Linked DNA regions of Homo sapiens. The main gene of each other region encodes a partner of the protein of the gene in region 2 in a complex. Each region holds a gene or a part of one and is shown on either strand. Other genes may lie near its edges. The genes, in order: SARNP and THOC1.

Region 1 (7,277 bases), on a different chromosome or scaffold from region 2:
TGAAGGTTCTGAGAGACTGGTTTATTTTGGAGTTCTGATGTTCTTCTTTTGATAGATATTTATTCTTTAGATTTATGTTAACCACCTTGTTTCATTTGGTTTTAGGAAGAAGAAACAAAGCCCATTGAGCTCCCTGTCAAAGAGGAAGAACCCCCTGAAAAAACTGTTGATGTGTAATTATCCCTTTTTTATAATCTGAGTACAGAGCAGGCAGCTCTTTTCTTAATGTATTTAATGTTTAACTTTGTTTACCTCTTACATGTTCCCATTGGCCTTTTCCTTTCTGATTAGGTCATTTTTTTGTTTTTTAGAAGGGACTACTTCAAAGTACTTGGTCCCAGTGAAGTAAAGCAAATTGTCTCTGAGTTATGTAATAGGTAATGAGGACCAGGTGACTTCAAGACCAGACATAGTTTAATTCTCCTAGCCTTTGTTGTTCTTTTGTAGGGTCACCATAATAGATTATTCTGTTACTCTATAGAGAATCTGTACAATTCTGTATGCAGTGTAAAACTGTGTAAACTCTGTTAACTTTTTTTTTTTTGAGACAGGATCTCACTCTGTTGCCCAGACTGGAGTGCAGTGGCGTGATCTTGGCTCACCGTAACTTCTGCTTCCCAGGCTCAAGCAATTCTCCTGCCTCAGCCTCCCGAGTAGCTGGGATTATAGGTGTGTGCCACTACTGCCCGACTGATTTTTGTATTTTTAGTAGAGACAGGGTTTTACCATGTTGGCCAGGCTGGTTTTGAACTCCTGACCTCAAATGATCCGTCTGCCTTGGCGTCCCAAAGTGCTGGGATTACAGGTGTGAGCCACCGTGCCCGGCCCATTCTGTTAACTGTTCATAAGAGTTTTGCACTTTTCTGGAAAAGTGTAAAACTGAGGCCAGGCACGGTGGCACACACTTGTAATCCCAGCACTTTGGGAGGCCGAGGTGGGTGGATTACGAGGTCAGGAGTTCAAGACCAGCCTGGCCAAGATGGTGAAACCCTGTCTCTTCTAAAAATACAAAAATTAGTTGGGCGTGGTGGAGGGCACCTGTAATTCCAGCTACTTGGGAGGCTGAGGCAGGAGAATTGCTTGAACCTGGGAGGTGGAGGTTGCAGTGAGCCGAGACTGTGGCACTGCACTCCAGCCTGGGAGCCACAGCTGTCTCGGGAAAAAAAAAAAAAAAAGTGTGACACTCTATATAAAGGAGTTTTGTAAGGGAGGAGGGTGTTGGGTAGAGGTTATGTTTCTGAAGTAGCACTCTGTTCTCTCTTGCTTTCTGATTTACAGTGGAGGATGGGAGGACAAAGTGCTAGAATGGAAAGTAGATCTTGATTTGTTTAAACTGTTCCACAAGGGTGATCCTAAACATCTTTAATTTGGGGCTTTTTCCACAAATGTCTGGCCATTTTGTACTATAGTACATTAAGAGCCGTTGAGTCCTAAACTTTGAACATTTTTGTTCCTCATAGTTGTGTTAGTGCATTTAATTATAAAAGGCAGTGTATTTACAAGTAAAAAGTCAGTACATAGTGGAGTATATCAATTAAGAATTAAGTACTCTTTGTATCCATTCTCAGATCTGACTTTACTGAGGTTTTTAGAACAGTACATACTTTTGGAAGATTTTATATATGGGGTCTGTACATGTGTATATGTATGTATGTGTATATATAGATACACGTATACACACACTGTGCACACTTGATTTTTTTTCACATCTGGAAATTTTTTATATCATCATTTTCTTATGTAAGTGTTAGTTATATGCTAGGCATTGTTCTTAAGAGTTATATGCTAGGCATTGTTCTGAATGTTTTACATGTACTGTCATTTTATCCTCAGTAGACCCTGTAAAGTCAGGATAATTATCCTAGGAAGTGGTCTCTTTTTGTTTAGCTTATTATGGGAAATTACAAGTATATACAAAAGTTCGACTAGTGTAATAGACTCTCATCTACCTATCACCCAGATTTACTAGTTATCAACTTAGAACCTTGTTCTTTCTAGCATTTAATAGTATTGCATTCTATGGATAAACAGTAATTTATTTCACCAGTCTTCTGTTGATGGACATTTAGATTATTCATTAAAAAAAAATGTAGTTCTGCATGTCCTTTTCTAATTATTTATACTCACAAGTATACCCACAGGGTAAATTCCTAGCAGTGGATTTGCTGCATCACAGAGGATGTACATTTAACATCTTGATAGATTTTTGTCAAATATCCCTTTATTTATTTATTTTTGAGACAGGGACTCACTCCGTTGTCCAGGCTGGAGTGCAGTGGCACAATCTTGGCTCACTGCAACCTCCGTTTCCCGGCTCAAGCAGTCCTCCAGCTTCAGCCTCCTGAGTAGCTGGAACTACAGGCACGAGCCACTACACCCAGCTCTTTTTTTGTATTTTTTGTAGAGATGGGGTTTCGCCGTGTTTGCCAGGCTGGTCTCAAACTCTTGAGCTCAAAGCGATCCACCTGCCTTGGCCTCCCAAAGTGCTGGGATTACAGGTGTGAGCCAGTAATCACCTGCCTATCAAATACTACTTTCCAGCCTATCAAATACTACTTTCTAAAGCCATTTAGTTATCTTTCCATCATAAGATGTTTATAATTAGATATAGTGCCTTGAAAAAATGACTTTGTGAGATAGCTTTAAAATAGAAATGTTATGGGGATTTCTGGAACAAGAAAGAAGATCAAGTGAATACCATGATAATTGGCTTCTGTGGGTTAAAAAATAGAGGTTCGAAAGTTTGAAGTTCATTATTCATAGAATATTTAAAATGTGCATTCTGTTCAGGGGGCTTTAATTCTATTAATGAATTTTGAAACAAGGAAATTGAAGTGGGTGGGGTGATCGTTTTTGATTTTTAGAGGATAGTTGTGGTTAGACTGAAGTATGTACAAAAAGATTCTGGGTCTCTGTATTTCAGGGAATGTTGTTTATGTGATTGGGTAGGAGAGAAATTTCTCAGTGAAGAGTGGAAATTTCCCATGCATCCCAGAATTCGATGTTTATTTATTGCGCTTGAGTTTAGTTGCCTAAGGGAATTGTAATAGAATGGAAGGAAACTTCCCGTCTGGGGTTCCCTTTCTGCCATGATGTGCACTGCATTGACTGTGCTTCAGAATGGTAATGGGGAGGAAGTCATTACACTGGGGTTGATGGAGAGTACTACTTTCTTGATGGCATTGGATTTCAAGTAAAACATTAAACTTTAGCCTTTTGTGCCTAAATTATAAGACAAGGTTAGGGAAGGATGGCAAGGAAATGGGAAGCGTTTAGAAATTTCTTTAAACGTCAGAATAGCCAGGGCTAGTTTAGATTCCTTGACTATTTAAAAGGAGATCCCCTTCTTCATGTTTGGCCTGAAGTTCTCCAAAAATATACCTGTTTCTAGTTTGATTCCCAACCCCCAACCAGCTAAAGCGGTTACATATCGTAGGACTTCGTTATAGTCAGCAGGGGGCACCCATTGCTTGTCTTCAGTCCAGGGATTTCCAATAAAAGGGTGGAAGAGAGTAAGTTCTTATTCCAGAATTGCTTCCTCTGAAAATGTCATTAAACCATTACTACCTTTCAGGGCATCAAATGGGAAAAGTGTTCAGGATATTGGAACAAAAGCTGCCCATGTCTCTAAATGAGGGACCTTAATGAGACTGGTTATGACCCACAGTTTTATGGGAGTTGTTTGGTGGAGGGTTAATGCCCTTCCATTTATCGTGGGTACTTCCGAACTTTGTCTCCCGCCCCTGTGGTCCCCCCTCTTTTGTTTCCTCTTAAACCTTTGACCACTAGCTTACCATGTTTTCCTAATTCAAACTCCCCTTAGACTTTTTTCTTCCTACCTTCTTTGGCATTTTTATTTGTTTCACTTTGACTGTTCCAGCTAGAGCTACATTCCCCATGGGAGAAATAAGGGATTTTTAAAAGAAGGAAACCAGACCTTGTAGAGTACTTATTAATTGTTGTGATGAACATTGGGAGGTGGTACTTAAAGGAGGATTGGAGGGTTACTCATTAGTTCAAAAGTAAATTAAAGGCTGGGCTCGGTGGCTGATGCCTGTAATCCCAGTACTTTGGGAGGCCGAGGTGGGTGGATCACTTGAGGCCAGGAGTTCGTGACTAGCCTGGCCAACATGGTGAAACCCTATCTCTACTAAAAATACAAAAATTAGCTCGGCGTGGTGGCAGGTGCCTGTAATTCCAGCTACTCAGGAGGTTGAGGCAGGAGAATCTCTTGAACCCAGGAGGTGGAGGTTGCAGTGAGCTGAGATCGTGCCATTGCACTCCAGCCTGGGCGACAAGAGCAAAACTCCGTCTCAGAAAAATAAAAGTAAATTGAAAAGTTCCTAAAAGCAAATGAGATGGTTTCTGGTGTCCTTTGAGTGTTTCCCTTCAGCCCAGTATATTTAACCAGACTTCTTTCCTTATTTCTTTATTATACTTTAGCTAAAGAAGCTTAGTTTGTTATTTGAACTCTTTCCTCTCAATAGATGACAGTTAAAGGAACCAAAGCTCTAGTGGACTTCATGTTTCTTTGGCTTAGGGGGTGGCAGAGAGATAATAGGGCAGAGAATGGTGACTCAGGTGAATTCTTACACATTTCTGAGGTTGTGGTTTAGAATATCAGTTTTCTCATTTTAAAAAATCTCTTTCTTTTCTAGGGCAGCAGAGAAGAAAGTGGTGAAAATTACATCTGAAATACCACAGACTGAGGTAGGTATTCTGCTCCCTAGTAGAACAGTCTCTACATTTCTCTCTCCCTCTTACCCTTTATTATATCTGCATCATCCTCTAAAATTTATTCACAGGCAGAAAATCAGTATTGGCAGATTTTGGTGTTGATACGTTTCACTGCCAGCTACTCTTTGGAAAATATTTGGCTGGCGTAGGGGTAGTCATTCTTGAAGTTGTAGTCTTTTTATATGTAATATTATGGTCTTAACAGTGACTCTCTTTGAGATGTTTTCAAACCTAGGATTAGATTTAGGAGGATTGTACCTTGAAAATGTATTGGTAGATGTGACTCTTATGTTGCTACTGGCCAGTAGCTGAGATTGAAATTTCTCTGGTTTCTGTGGTGCAGGACTGTGAAACCAGGTTCCATTTGAGATCTTGTGTTCAGTATCATACTTGCAAAGTAGAGAATTATTAAACTCTTTTAGAATGGCATAAAACAATGCTGCCTCATTTCTAACTGAAAGAATACCATTGGTGTTGGAACCAAGCTATTCCTTTGATCACTTTTCAAAGGTCAGCCAAACATAGCTTTTGACTTCTTGGCTTCATGCATAATGTAGGTTTTACTTTATTTCTCCCTTTTGTTTTTGAGGGCATCTAGTAATAGTCTTTTTTTGTTTGCTTTGTGGGAAGGGCCGTTAAGTCCTAGCATGGACACAACCTGATATCTTCTAGGATTGTCAGTATTTTCAGTTTAGACCCTAAGAAATTACTTCTGATGTTTTTAAGATACCTACCTTTGGCTGGGCCAGGTGGCTCACGCTTGTAATCCCAGCAGTTTAGGAGGCTGAGGTGGGCAGTTCACTTGAGGCCAGGAGTTCAATATCAGCCTGGCCATCATGGTGAAATCTCATTTCTACTAAAAGCACAAAAATTAGCTGGGCACAGTGGCACAGTCCTGTAATCCCAGCTACTCAGGAGGCTGAGCCACGAGAATCGCTCGAACCCAGGAGGCTGAGGTTGCAGTGAGCCGAGATCATGCCACTGCACTCCAGGCTGGGGGACAGAGTGAGACTCTTTTTTTTTTTTTTTTTTTTTTTTTTAAAGATACCTACCTCTGACTGACTTTCTTAAACCATAAATTGACTTTTTTTTCTCCCTTTTGTCTATTTTTACTTAGAGAATGCAGAAGAGGGCTGAACGATTCAATGTACCTGTGAGCTTGGAGAGTAAGAAAGCTGCTCGGGCAGCTAGGTGAGTGTCCCCAGCCTTTTGGGCCTCTGATAGGGGTGTTGTAAAGATGAAGATGTGTGATCCTAGCTTTTAGGTATAATTGTTGATTTTAAGTAGAATAGAGGCTTGCTGAAGGATATGAACACTTTTTTGACCCTATTCAGAACATGTCTACTGATTTGGTTATAGTAGCTATAAATTGAGCTTTATTGAGAAGGGTTTTTGTAACAGTTAAAGCCAGGAACTGACTACTACTAATTCTGATAAGGCTTCCTTTTAGCTTAATTTCTGAACCTCTTTCATGGGGTTGTTAGAATTAGCTAATGATTGCAAGGCTTGAGATCACAAGCAAGAAGTGTCATATGTATACTTGACACGGAGACAGACAAACCAGGAGTGTGAACAGCTTCCTAAAATTTAGTTTGTTTTTCCTTCTTCAGGTTTGGGATTTCTTCAGTTCCAACAAAAGGTAAGAGTACAGAGATACTTCTGAGAAAGTTACCTTTTTATTCTTTCTTTTCTGGTATAACAGGTTTTATTTCTCCAAAATAAGGTAAATTTGCTAGCTGTAGAAACTCTTTAAGAGATTGTAACATTCATCTCCTGCTTTAGGTAAAATTATACTTAGGCCTTCCTGGGCAATTAAGAGAGATACTGAATGTTATGAGAGGATAGGAAGTGCCAACATTTGTCTGTCTTTTCTTGAACATCTTCAAAGAAGTTTCTCTAGTACTTTGCTTACTTATTCTGGGGTCTCAACTGCATAAAATTATTGCATACTATCTAGTGTTATACTGGCTATTATAAGTGATAAAAGGGAAAAGAATATCTTCTACCTTAACAGTTTTACTTCTAGGAACGTATAAGGAAATAGTCTTGAATGTGCATAAAGACTTAGCCTCAGGGATTATCACAGCATTATTTATAGTGATCAATAACTGGAAACAACCAACTGTACAACAGAGAATTAGTTATTAAATGTGTGCCATGGTATAGCAGACTACTGTGCTGAAATAATATTGAAAGATATTTATCAGAGATATTAATGAAAAAAGTTACAAAATTATATTAACAGTACGTTCCCATTTTAGTCATGTAAGAGTGCATGTATAGATAGGAAAAAAGCTTGGAAGGATACATAGTAGACACTTCAGCAAGGTTTGAACTGCACAGGTCCACTTATACTTGGATTTTTTTTTTTTTCAATAAATACAGTTTGCTGTCTGTATCTGAGGGTTCACCATAACCAAATGCGGTTCAGAAATACAGTATTCTTGGGATGTGAAACCTGCAGATATGGAGGAGCAGCTTATATCTGCTGCAGGACTTGAGTGTGGTGGATTTTGGTATCAGCTGGAGGGGTGGGTTTG
Region 2 (7,288 bases):
TCCTAAGCTAAATATTCTTGGACTAGACCTTTTGCGCCACTACAGGATGTATCACTGCTTATACAGGAAAGTGAGAGAGCCCACCTTCACCTCTAGTTCTTCCTAAGACCTCATGTCAACTTTTCTTATCTCACTTGGAGAGGGCTCTTGTCATTTATTAAACCAAACCCTTAAAATGTACCTGTGCTATCAAAATCCTTAGAGAAATCGTATAGTCATCAAGTCAACTTTTACAAAGCAGAAAGGTTACTCTAAAAAAAGATGTTTAAATATCCATTCTAAGAAAAAAAGCAATTTTTAAATAACATGGTTTATTAATTTGTCAGTAAAATTTTAACAATGGAAAAACATACTTACAATTTCTTCTTCTAGAATACCTCTGAAAGCTTGGTCAAGGGTACATTTTTTTTCATTTTCACTATTAAAAACAAAAGACATCCTCATTTTTCAAACAGCTCAGGGTATGTATAAAGATTGAGGCAAGTATTTTTCATAGATATCAATGCCTTACCTGCCAGGTACCTGGCTGAAGGTACTTAACAATGGCTTGATGTTTTTGTTGTTCAAGGCCTCTCTGGTAGACTTCTAAAAAAAAATTAAAATGGCAAATAATTGTAAAGATTTTGCTTATTATTTGCTGAAAAATATATCGTTCATTGATAGTGTATCTTACTAACTAAAAAATGCTTATACCTGGGAAAAATTACCTATCAGTCATTCTCTCAGTAATCCTTATTCCAATGCTACTTCATGATACGGATCCTCATCACTTTAAATCTGGCAAGAGCTTCCTTGCTGGACTTTTTCATTCTAGGTGATATTTCTGTCTCTTTAAATATCACATTCATGAGTATTGTGCTTACAAAAAAAAAAAATCTCCATATGGCTCCTTATTTGCCCGTTTTAGTTTTGAAGCTTCATAGATCCCTCAAGGTCCTTGATAATGTTATCCCAATTTACCCAAACTTAATTCCCAATACTCCCTAACACATACTTTGCACTAAAGTCTAGCCATTTTTCATCACTTTATATCAAACTCATTCTACTGTATTCACACATTCATGTTGCTCTTCCTACCTGCTCATCCAAATTCTATCCATTCTCCCACACCCATGTCAGGTCTCGCCTCCTGGAGGTATCTTGTTCAGTCCCTGACACGTAGCACTCAATAAAACCATGCTGACAATCTGTAGATTGTTTTAAAGTAATCATAACTTAAAGACAAAAATATTGCAAAAGGCATTCATTCTATGAACACTCACATACACTTAGAAAGTCATCTTATTACCTCACAGGAATTAGATCTATCCTAAATGTGTCCATTCCTTGCTCTGCCACTAACAGGCTGAGTAATTTGGGGCCTGTTCCTTTATCTCTTTGTGCTTCATTTTCGTCACCAGTTAAATAAGAGGGTTTTTGTAGATTTTTACTACCAGCAGCAGCTACAGTGGCATCACCTAGGAAGCTGGTAGAAATGCAAAATCTCAGGCTCCCTTCCACACTTACTGAACAAGAATCTGCATTTCACAAGAAGCTTGAGAAACACTGAACTAGATGATCTCCAATTTCATGGTCCTTTTCAGGGCTAGTATGATTTTTTTTTTTTTTTTTGAGATGGAGTCTCCCTCTGTTGCCCAGGTGTTGTGCACTGGCATGATCTTGGCTCACTGCAACCTCCGCTGTCCGGGTTCAAGCGATTCTCCTGCCTCAGCCTCCCAAGTAGATGGGATTACAGCGCCCACCACCACGCCTGGCTAATTTTCGTATTTTTAGTAGAGACGGGGCTTTGCCATGTTGGCCAGGCTGGCCTTGAACTCTTGACCTCAGGTGATCCGCCCGCCTCGGCCTCCCGAAGTACTGCATTTACAGGCGTGAGCCACTGCGCCCGGCCGCCAATATGATCTTGGATAGTCCTAACAGTTACTCTTAGCAGGCTTTCAAAGCACCAGAGATTGCAGCAAAACGCACACAAAGAAAATGATTATGATGACATACACAAAATATAATCCATTTAAAAAAAACCTCACACTGTGTGTGTGTGTATATATATATTATACGTATACGTATATATATGTATATATATATATATATAACCCTGCAAACAAGAAAACTACTTACTACAAAGGATGAATTTTTCTTTCACACAATTTTCATCCTGGCATCCCTATAACTACCAAAACACAGCCGAATATCTGAGAAATGTTGGTGCAAATGCTAGAGACGAATAGAGTCAGGCAACTTAAAAGTGTTCTTCATACTTACGTTGCTGTGACGAGCAACATAAAAAGAACAGAGTGTCTAAAGTCAGAAAAACCACTGAAGTCACAACTTTTTGGGGGGTGTCAGCTTCTACCTCATGTACCAGGAATAACCAACTTAGCCTACTTCACAGTGTTACTCTAATAGTTAAATGAGAAAGTGATCTGTCAAGTGTTTCCCAAATGCTCAAAACCACCCTTCCACATTGAGCAAGAATAAAATAGCATCTGGTTACCCTTCCCAAGGTGATCTATCTGCCTTTTCCCGCTTAGGATCTCATCGATCGCTTAGGAGTTAGACACGGTGGGTTAAGGGGTGGTGAAGAGACGGCGGGAACAAGCACTTGGTAGCTCAGAAGGCTAGGGCGGGAGCCAGGTCTTTGGACTGAAACCACTCCCACCCTCCCCCTTCAGCAGCTCCCCTTCCCCTTCTCGAGACACCTGCCCCACTAAACGAGCTGAGAGGATGGACCCAACCAGCAGTAGTCTGCAGGTGGGCACTCCAAGCGGGGAGCCGAGGCGCCCAGCACGCAGTCCGGGGACCCGCTGGAGGGTGGGCGGAGGCGGACGGCCCAGCCCACAAAGAAGAGGCGGGTAGTGCGTCTTTCCCTACCCCTCAACCTCCGACGGGGCCCGGAGCGGACGCTGAGGCGGACACACCTCTGTCTCACTTTACCCCAGGGCAAAATTCGAGTAATTTCAGGGAGAAGAGGACAAAGCATAGCGCCGGGTCAGGCCTGCACCCTCCCCTCTACAGCTCACCGTAAACCGCGTCCGCGCTTCGGGCAAACTGAAGAGCGGCGGCGTCGGAGACATCTTCTCGGCTGCGCGTGCCCGCCACTGCGCTGCGGCGCCTGCCGATGACGTCAAGCCAGGAGCAACGAGACTGCGGTCTCTCTGAGCCCGGCTAGAGTGGCCTGTGAACACCGGTCGGGCGAGCTGGCAGTTGGGAGTTTCCCTAGCGACTCAGTTCGGGTGGGCGTTGGGCGCCTGAGTCAGCCAAACAGCCTACTCGGGGTTCTTGGGTAGCCTTTGGGGTGAGGGGACTTGGGCGGCCTTGGTCTGTAAGCTCTGCGTTCCCGGGCGTGGAAGAGACTGGCCGCGCACATGCGTTTCTGTGGTTTTCCTGGTTTGGGGAAAGCGGGTAAATGGTGGCTGGTTGCGGCTAACTGGGCCGCGCTAAAAGGTAACCCAAGGCAGGTGGATTACCTGGGGAAACAGCTGGAGCAGTGGTCCTGGGCCGCCAGTCCGCGGTCATCCCGGGAGCTTAAGATGCGGAGTGGTGATAGGCTCCGGATGTATGAGCCCTGTGGCTCAAGGGCGCTGTTCTCTCTGCTCCGAAATAGAAATAATACCTGTCTCACAGAGCTGTTGAAAAGCTCCACTGAAATAATGACCGCAAGTGTGAACTGTAAAGCAATGTAAGTAGTATTTATTATTAAAAGGTCTCTACTGAAAGAAAGAGACCTAGGAGGAATGCAGTGCCCGGCGCTGATTGGAAAACGGGTGGCGCTGCGTCCTGGGCCGAGGCTTCCCTAGCGAAAACCTTGTCTCCCTCCATTTCGTCCCTTGCCTGCCTTCCCAGGAGAGACGTGGCCGATAGAAGCCGAGTGGCAGTAACTCTAAGTTGGAGTTACACGGTGGAGAAGGAAGCACTGACTCAGACTCGGGTAACTTCCTCTTATTCCCTCACACGTGTATCTTGTTCCCTTCTTCGAAGTCTGTAAATTTAAAATCCTAAGCCCCCCAACAACTGAACAGACCCCCGTGAGGCCAAGGGGACACCAGCAAAATCTTAACAACTGAGTTCCCAGTCATAACGGGATGGGAGGTCAGACGGACCTGGTTATACCCTCTCCCTTTTGTGATTTAGAGGAGATAGCTGACTGGCCATAAAGTTAAAATAGAGGCCAGGCGCGGTGGCTTACGCCTGTAATCCCAGCACTTTGGGACGCCGAAGCAGGTGGGTCACCTGAGGTCAGGAGTGGATCACCTGAGGTATGGCAAACATGGTGAAACGCTGTCTCTACTAAAAATACAAAAATTAGCCGGGCGTGGTGGCACGCACCTGTAATCCCAGCTACTCAGGAGGCCGAGGCAGGAGAATGGTTTGAACCCGGCAGGCGGAGGTTGCAGTGAGCGGAGATCGTGCCATTGCACTCCAGCCTGGGCGACAAGAGTGAAACTCTGTTTCAAAAAAAAAAACGGAGATGATAGGACTGACGGAATTGACTCCATGGCAATAAGATACCAAAGTATAAACAGGACCTAAGCCCATGCCAAGCAAGGGTTAAAAGTCATGCATCCCTACGCTTGAAAAATAAACTATGTTCTCACTATGCTTCAAGGTTTTTCTTTAGCAGCTAAACAAGCGCTGGCCTCACAGTATTAAAACAATTTGCAGTTCATCGACCACCAGACACTAACAACCCTCTCCCACCAGCCGTAACTACAGCTTTTATTGATTTCAGTTACTTTCTCCTGATAAGAAGGTCACTGACCATGGACTTGTTCTGGCCAATTTGTAGTGATTGCATGCTTACGTAACTTCCTGAAAAGATATTTTGATGTATAGGACCAAACTGTAAATACATTTAAATGTTAAGTCTCCACCCCAAAGTGAACATGGATTGTCTGTTAAACATGCATATTTGTTTAATATGCATGTGTCAAGACCACTTTCATGAATATTCATAGCCGCTCCTCTAACTTGTTGAATATGTATGTTTAGCCAACCAGTTAAGCATAAAGTTCCTACTCCAACTCCTCCTCTGAAGTGTCTGTATGTGGTCTTGGCTGGAGGCATGCTTCCCAGCCTGCAGAATGGCCACCTTGCAGGCTGTAACTCCTTATAAGAAACAAAGTCTCTCCTTTTCTAAATCTATAGATCTTATGATTTTTTAGTTAACATGCACAATAAGAATACAGGAAGCTAAGGAAAAGATAACTGCAGAATCTTACTCCTAAGTGGGAATTGTGAACAATAATGACTACCTGAAATGTTACAGGCTTTTTAAGAATCAGCAAGATCATTCAGGTTTGGTTGTATACATTAAATTTACAAATTGGCAAAATAAAAATGATTTAATTCAGAATTATACTTTGTTTATCTGATACTAATTGTTGTAATAGGATTATCATATTACAGATGACTATTAACCATCTGGAACACAACTAAGACCTCAGAGGCAAGTACATTTTTTTCTTTTCTTAAGAGACAGGGTCTCATTCTGTCATCCAGACTGGAGTGTAGTGGTTTGATCATAGCTGACTGTATCCTCAAACTCCTGGGCTCAAATGATCCTCCTGCCTCCATTTCCCAAGTAGCTGGGACTAGAGGCATGTGCCACCAAGCTCAGCTAATTTTTTTATTTTTGTAAGACAGGGTTTTGCTATGTTGCCTAGGCTGGTCTTGAATTCCTGGGCTCAAGTGGTCCTGCCTCGGCCTCCCAAAGTGCTGGGATTACAGGCATGAGCCACTGTGCCTGACCTGGCACTTTTCTTATATTGCTTCTAGTCCTTACAACAATTTTTTACTTAGTTATATATTAATGAGTATACAGCCTCATTGGCTGTAAGTCACATGGCTAGAGAAAGCTAAGTTTGGAATTTGAGCCTAGCTGTCATCCCAAAGCCTGTATTTTTCTTAAGTCTTAACTCTTGAATCTTTACCATGGGCCTATTCAATGTTTCAGAAATTATTTCCTTACAATTGGATAAGGGCGAGGACCATAGTGTCATTAATAACAAAACATAGGCCCGGTGCGGTGGCTCACGCCTGTAATCCCACTACTTTGGGAGGCCGAGCCAGCTGGATCACCTGAGGTCGGGAGTTTGAGACCAGCCTGGCCAATATGGTGAAACCCCATCTCTACTAAAAATACAAAAATCAGCCAGGCATGGTGGCAGGCACCTGTAATCCCAGCTACTCGGGAGGCTGAGTCAGGAGAATCGCTTGAACCCGGGAGGCGGAGGTTTCAGCGAGCCAAGATCCTGCCATTGCACTCCAGCCTGGGCAACAAGAGCAAAACTCCATCTCAAAAAAAAAAAAAAAAAAAAAGAGTTTTTTGTTTTTTGTTTTTTTGTTTGTTTGTTTGTTTGTTTTTAAGTGGGTAATAACATCCAGAGGGCAGACATCCAGGAACATGTAACCTTTTCACTTATATTTACTGAGCACCTGTTTTTCCTCATGCTAGCTGGTGAAGTAAGATGGACGAAGGACTGCCTCTCTGTTAGGAAATAACTTGCATGGGAGAATCTAGGATGGATGGTTTAGATCAGTTCTAGGCATTCACATCTTCATTCCTCTTTTTTTTCCTTAGTGTGGCCTTACTTGAGTTCAGTTTACCATTGGAATGGTAAGATCTGGGAGGAAAGGACTAAGGATGCAGTTTAATCTGCTTTTCTTCTAGTTCTTATCCTGACTATTGTCTAGGCAGAAGGAAGCTTTTTGCTCCATGCTTACTGGTCGGCCACATTAGGATGTTGGATTGCAGGTTTGCCTTTTTCAGCATTTGGGCCCCAGCCATCTCTCCCTTTCTCTCATTTGTAGTTTAAGTGGATTGAAATAATTATATTTATTTAAAGGGAACTGATGTTTGAGTGGCAAAGTTGAATAAAAAGAATGAGACTCCTGCATTGTGAGAGGAATGGAACTGAGAAGAATAAAAATGAAAAAAATGGCCGGGCACAGTGAGTCACACCTGTAATCCCAGCACTTTGGGAGGCCAAGGTGGGTGGATCACTTGAGGCCAGGAGTTTGAGACCAGCCTGACCAAGATGGTGTAACCCTATCTCTACTAAAAATACAAAAAATTAGCTGGGTGTGTTGGCCGCGCCTGTAATCCTAGCTACCCAGAAGGCTGAGGCAGGAGAAGCGCTGGAACGTGGGAGGTGGAGGTTTCAGTGAGCAGAGATCGTGCTACTGCACTCTAGCCTGGGTGACAGAGTGTGACTCTATCTCAAAAAAAAAAAGGAAAAGGACGGCCCTTTATACTCTAGAGCTTAAATTTTCTTGGAAAAAGAGTAAT

The links.
Region 1: THOC1 (region 2) and SARNP share a complex: the UniProt entries of both Homo sapiens proteins name them as parts of the transcription/export (TREX) complex.

The regions. Positions count from the first base shown.
Region 1 is NC_000012.12:55,793,458-55,800,734, reverse strand, and holds part of SARNP (SAP domain-containing ribonucleoprotein), read left to right. Parts: intron 1-105; coding exon 106-173; intron 174-4,658; coding exon 4,659-4,710; intron 4,711-5,854; coding exon 5,855-5,928; intron 5,929-6,347; coding exon 6,348-6,376; intron 6,377-7,277. UniProt on the Homo sapiens protein: Binds both single-stranded and double-stranded DNA with higher affinity for the single-stranded form. Specifically binds to scaffold/matrix attachment region DNA. Also binds single-stranded RNA. Enhances RNA unwinding activity of DDX39A.
Region 2 is NC_000018.10:264,946-272,233, forward strand, and holds the start of THOC1 (THO complex subunit 1), read right to left. Parts: upstream 3,103-7,288; 5' UTR 3,075-3,102; coding exon 3,021-3,074; intron 586-3,020; coding exon 512-585; intron 419-511; coding exon 358-418; intron 1-357. UniProt on the Homo sapiens protein: Component of the THO subcomplex of the TREX complex which is thought to couple mRNA transcription, processing and nuclear export, and which specifically associates with spliced mRNA and not with unspliced pre-mRNA.